2 separate regions of the Homo sapiens genome follow, and region 2 is linked to region 1. The links come from fine-mapping of genetic effects on gene expression. A gene starts in region 1. The other region holds a variant in brackets. All regions are shown on one strand. Distances are from middle to middle.

Region 1 (2,895 bases):
GGGCCTCAGCAGGACTCCAAACTCCCATGTCTCTTCTGTCTGTTCTCTGTGTCCCTGGGAGCCAACGCCCTTGGTCTGGGGTCCAGCCCCGCTGCTGGTCTCTGATTCCAGCCTCCGTGATGGGTGGCCCCTGGGCTAAGCACTATTTGGAACCAGGAGCCTGATGTGGCTGCCCCTCCCTGCGTGGGGAAGAGGCCAGCCCGGATTCTCCCTCAAGTGCCCTGCCACACCCCCCCATCCTTCGCTGATTCCAAACTCCTTATCTTGGCATTTAAGGCTTCCGAGTCCCCACTCAGTGACTCCTTTGAGAGCACCATGTCTTGTCCTTCCTCCCTGCCTGGCTCCCGGGGAAATCCACCTCTCCTCGTAGTTTTGCAGCCCCTGCCTTTGGTCCTGTTCCCTTACTCTCAGAGCAGTTCTTGTACCACCTCCTCCAGGAGGCTCGCTGTGATGTACCCAGGCCCACTGAGTGTCGGTACTCTTCCTCCTACAACAGCTCTCAAATTCAGCTAGAATTCAAGTTCAGCCAGCACCCCAGGCAGAGCCTCCAGCCCACTTAACTGAGGCCAGTTCGCAAGCCACTGCCCACGAAACACCAGAAGCTGAGGCGGGGAAAGCAGGCTCCTTGATGAGCCACAAGGGCTGAGGAGGTGGCTGCCTGGCATAAGCCGACCGCTGTGGACGGCTGTGCCACAGCACAGGCCCGGAGCCAGGAGCCCGCTCTGGCTCTGCAGCCCGGCCACGCTGGGGCTCCCATGGGGTTGCTGGGGCCAGGCTGACTGCGAGAGGGCAGCGGCCGCCCGGATGCGCAGCTCTATCTCCTACCTGGCCGGGCCAGGGGAGAGAAGGGAGGCCCGGGGCGGGGGAGCCCCGCGTGCTCAGCGCGCGGACCGCCTTTCCTCCTCTCCCTCCACCTGGTCCGCTCGCCCGGAGTCTGCACACAGCGCAGCTGGAAAATGTTACTTCGCTGGAAAGGTTTCCGCTGGCACTGCCAGGATCCCAAGCCGCCGCGCCAGGCCCCCTCGGTTCCTTTTTCCTCGCCAGCCCCGCAACCTCCCGGAGCGTAGGGCGCTCGCCTGGGCAGGGGCTCGGCCCCGGGCGCCGCCCCCTCTGTGCAGCGGCCTCGGGGTGCCCGGGGCCTCGACGCCCCCCGCGGGTGCGGGCAGGTGGGAGCGGCGACGCGCGCGGGCCCATCCCTCCCTCTTCCCGCCCGCCGCCCGCCCGCGCTTACTTGTGCGGCCCCGGGCGCAGCCGCGGGCGCCATCCCGTCGTGTAGAGACTGTAGCGGGAGGCACCGGGCGGCGCAGGCCGCGCCAGGAGCGGGGTGCCCCTGGCCTGCGCCCCCGAGAGCAGCGCCGCGACGGCGCACAGCCAGACGAGCAGGCGGCGGCGGCCCATAGCGGCCCCCGCGCCTCTGCCCGGCCCCGCGCGGTGCCCCCCGCCGGGTGTCCGCCTGCAGCGCCGCGCCGCCCCCGCCGCTGGTCGGCCCGGGTCCCGCCCCGAGGGTCCCGGGGTCCCCTTCGGCCCCCGAGCTCGCTGGCCCGGCCGCCTGGCGCTTCGCGGCGGCTGCGTCCCGCGGAGTGGCCGGCGCTGCTAGCGGCTGGGGCCGCGGAGGGGAGGCGGGAGGCGGGCTCTTTGCGGATTAGCATAAACTTGGGGCCGCGCCGCTCGCCGCCGCCAGCCCCTCGCCCCAGCTCCGAGCGGACGGCCGAGGAGCCGCCTGCGAACAGGAGGTTCCAAAGGGAGCAGCCCCAGGTGGCAGGGGCGCAGGCCGCCGCGCCCTGGGAGGCCCCCCGAGCACACCAGCCACTCTGTCGCCTGCGGGCACGGGGCGAGACGCAGAGAAGCGGACCCCTGAGGCCAGCCTGGGCGTGGACTTTCCAGGAGTCGTCCACCCTCAGGATACGCTTGTCTTCAGAGTCCGTGTGAACCCGGGAACTGCTCTCCAGGGCTCTGGAGCCGAGATGGCCGTGACTGGGGGCACAGCAGCACCACCTCCCCCGCCACCTCTTTGGAATAGACCCCAGATCATCCCCGTTTGCTCGCTCTGCCTCCTGGCCCCATCATTGCCCGGGAACCTTAGTTTGATAACTCCGCTGACCTCTCCCCAGGCATCCCACCTCCCCCTTACCCCGCAACCTCTGCCACGTAGCCTGGTGGCCCGGTTGCACCTCTGGTTCTCTGGAGGCGCCTGTGTTGCCTCTCTGTCTTAGGTATGGGTTGCACCGAGCCCGAAAGGCCTATCACCGCCCCAGCCCAGCCAAAAGTGCTGTGCTTTTCGTGCAACTGAAGCTCTAAGCCGGCTGGTCAGAGAAAATCCTCAGGTCTTTCTCACAAGGCACTGCCGCGGTGAAGCCAGGCGTCGTCCACATTTTGCTTGTGAAGTTGACTCTTGGAACCCAAGAGTTGGGTTTTATCGTCGTCCTCATTCAGTATCACCTTGCTAACTCTCTAACCTGCACAGAGTCCTTCTGATTCTGTCATCAGAGCGGTACTTTCCTGGCCTTGTCTCATCCACACCGGTGGCTACAGCCGTCTGTGTCTTTGCCCCAGGAGCTGATAGGTGTACAGAACTCTGGGGCTTGCTTGGAGAGACCTCCCTCCAAATTGACCTTGAGATATGAATTAATGCCTTTTGGATAGGGTGATGGTTATCAAGGATACTGGAAGGGGCAGCTCCGAAACCCACATCTATTTCCTGCCCTTAGCTTTAGTGGCTTTTGGGTTCTGTGGGGCGGACATCTGACCCCAGCTAGGCCCATCCTGCTTTCCCCCAGGCTTTGGAATCAGAACACAGAAGCTGAAGGAATCCAGCTTCCAGGTGTAGGTTGTGTGAGTTTCTCAGGGCTGTGGTAACAGCCACAGACTCAGTGGCTTAACACACAGAAATGTATT
Region 2 (2,895 bases), 29 kb after region 1:
AGCCCCAGGCCCTGGTGACCCTGCCATGGATAACCCTGGGTCTGCCTCTTCTGCAGGGAGGTGGGTGCCACTGCCAGACTTCAGAGTAGCAGGCTCTGAGCCTGGCTGGCCCTTTTGCTCAAGGCCTCCTGAGTCCATATCACAAAGTCAGTGTTTGAGCACAGGGTTGGTTTACCCAGCACTTGCCTTACTTGGGGTGCAGGGGACCTCAAGCTGTTTCTCCTAGTCCCACTGAGGCACAAGAGAGGGGCTTTCTGTACTGCTATCTCCCCTACTGGGGCTCAACCCAGTCTTTTTTTTTTCTTTGAGACTGAGTCTCACTCTATTGCCCAGGCTGGAGTGCAGTGGTGCAATCTTGGCTCACTGGAACCTCCGCCTCCCGCGTTCAAGTGATTCTCCTGCCTCAGCCTCCTGAGTAGCTGGGATTACAGGCACGCACCACCATGCCTGGCTAATTTTTGTATTTTTAGTGGAGACGGGGTTTCACCATGTTGGCCAGGCTGGTCCCGAACTCCTAATCTCAAGCGATCCACCCAACTCGGCCTCCCAAAGTGTTGGAATCACAGGTGTGTGCCACCGTACCTGGCCTCCACTGGGTCTTAAGGGTGCCCTAGGGTGAAGATGGGAGGGCAGTCCAATGGGTAAGACCCTATCTCAAGTGGATGCTCAGGGCACAGGTGGCACCCCCCTCACTGGTCTGTCACAGGAGACACAGGGGCTGCTGCTGGAGATGCCACAGCCGTGTGGGAGGGGCAGGCTGGTGGGGCAACTGAGGAAGAGGATCCCAGAAGCCTGGGTTCAGACATGGCTCCAGGGGGCTCCTGGGTGCTGGAAACAGACGAGACACCCTCAAAGAGGCTGGTTCCTTCAGTCCATCCCCACTGACCGCTGCCAACCACCCCTTTCCTCTTCCCTTCAGAAACCTTTTTCCAGGCGGGAGGGATGGTAGCTGGGAAGCTTTGCTCTTATCTGGCATGTGCCCAGGCCAGGCACCGAAACTCAAAAGCCAAGCAGAGAATCTTTTTTTGTCTGCTTCCGATTGTCGTACCTTGTCCCTGAGAGACACTCATGGACCAGCCCAGCTTGAAAAGGAGCCAGAGAACACAAGAAACAA[C/T]CAGTAACTCCAAAGAAAGGTCAGGGTTTCAAGAACATTGTGCCCCCCCGGTTGACTGTGCAGAGCAAGTACCTCTTTGGATGGAGGTTTTATTTCTTTGAACTCTTGTTCCTTACAGAGGCTGGGAGTGGTTGGGCCCACAGGGTGGGGGTGGTGGACTCCTTGTCCTTGGGCCTGTTTTGGGGATGCTGGGTTGCGCACTGGGAGTGGAGTTGGTGGGGGCTCTGAATTCTCCCACGCTCAGTCTAGGGATGGGAGCTGCCTCTTTCTTCCCTCATGGGATGCTAATTATCCTCAACTTGTCTGGGAGAAGAAAGGAAGTAGCTGCAGGGGCTTAGCCAGGAGGAACACCTGCTCCCCTGCCCCACCGCCCTCCAGCTCTCCCTCCCTCCCTCCTTCCCTCTCTCTCAGATGCACACCAACACTAGGAGTATCCTTATATACGTATGTGCTGCTTCTTGACGGGGAAATTTGACAAGGGACTGGGGTGAGGGTAGGGGTGTCTTCTACCTGGGGAGGCCCAAGGGGCTGCGGCTGGGGCTTTCCTCAGCCTCATACAATCCACCGCCCCGCCCCCAACCCCTGCCCAAGGCACTCACGGTGCCTTGTGCCTCCGGGCTCTTTGCCGGTCTGGAAAGTCTGGGATCTGTGAATGGAAAAGCCTGGGTCAGAGCTGGAGTGGGGAGTGGGTGGGGGTTGGGAGCTGTGTCTACAGAGTTTAGAGTTTTCTTGGTCTGAGCCAGGAAAGAGTCTAAACACCCAGCAGTGCTGAGTCCTTGCCTGCCCTGTGCAGCGTGGACCTTCCTCGGCCCAGCTCTCCTGCCCTATGCAGGCTTTGGGAGTCCCTGAGGATTTTCAAAGAGCCCCAAGGCGCTGGGGACAGAGAAAGGTGAGGCCAGGTTGTCATCCTGAGGGGGAACAGGCACACACAGCCAGCAGGGGCCTGATGGTAGATGAGACCAGGGTGACGTGGCAAAGCTGCTTCAGTCTGGCCACAGCACTGCATCGACCTGGACTCTTGAGCCTCTCCTAGTGTCCTGCTTCTGAGAGCCAGCTGGACATCTCAGTGGGGAACAGGACAGTCACTCTCGAGGCAGGAGGATCGCTTGAGCCCAGGAGTTCGAGGCTACAGTGAGCTGTGATCACACCACTGCACTCCAGCCTGGGTGACAGAGGGAGATTTTGTCTCAAAAAAACAAAAACAAAAACAGACAAACAAAAAAGACTCAGTGTGAAGAGGGGAGGGGGACAGGGCAACTCCAGTGTTTCCTCCAAAGTGAAAGTATGCCCTCGGGTTTGGAGGCTGGCCCTCAAGAAGCATGCCCAAAGCCAAGGGCTTCTTGGAAGCATTTTATCTCAAAAGTAGACATGAATCTTATATTCCACTATGTGATTCATTTTTATACAAAACCATGTTGGAGTTAATATGAAATATATATATATATATATATATATGTATGTGTGTGTGTGTATTTTTTGAGATGGAGTCTCACTCTGTTGCCCAGGCTGGAGTGCAATGGTTCCATCTCGGCTCACTGCAACCTCTGCCTCCTGGGTTCAAGCAATTCTCCTGCTTCAGCCTTCCCAGTAGCTGGGATGACAGGCTCCTGCCACCACACCTGGCTAATTTTTGTATTTTTAGTAGAGATGGGCTTTTGCCATGTTGGCCAGGCTAGTCTCGAACTCCTCACCTCAGATGATCCGCCCGCCTTGGCCTCCCAAAGTGCTGGGATTACAGGCATGAGCCACTGTGCCTGGCCATATGAAATATTTTAAATGAG

Which allele goes with the higher level. Alleles are on the strand shown, and positions count from the first base shown. SD is a standard deviation of normalised expression in the study named.
For the expression in testis of the gene that starts at base 1,582 in region 1, allele T in region 2 goes with a higher level than allele C (large effect, 1.0 SD a copy in GTEx).

What was found.
Region 2: its variant is fine-mapped to the expression of EMILIN3 in testis (GTEx, PIP 0.99). The same link has a PIP of 0.9 or more in thyroid.

What each region holds. Positions count from the first base shown.
Region 1 is chr20:41,365,237-41,368,131 of GRCh38, forward strand. It overlaps EMILIN3 (elastin microfibril interfacer 3), which reads right to left and starts at 1,582. Exons shown (of 4, transcript NM_052846.2): 1 at 1,232-1,582. The coding sequence starts at 1,398. RefSeq lists an enhancer at 319-820.
Region 2 is chr20:41,394,336-41,397,230 of GRCh38, forward strand. No RefSeq gene overlaps it. Among named protein-coding and RNA genes, the nearest start is that of EMILIN3, 29 kb to the left of the region's middle. The variant C/T (reference allele first, on the strand shown) is at 1,115.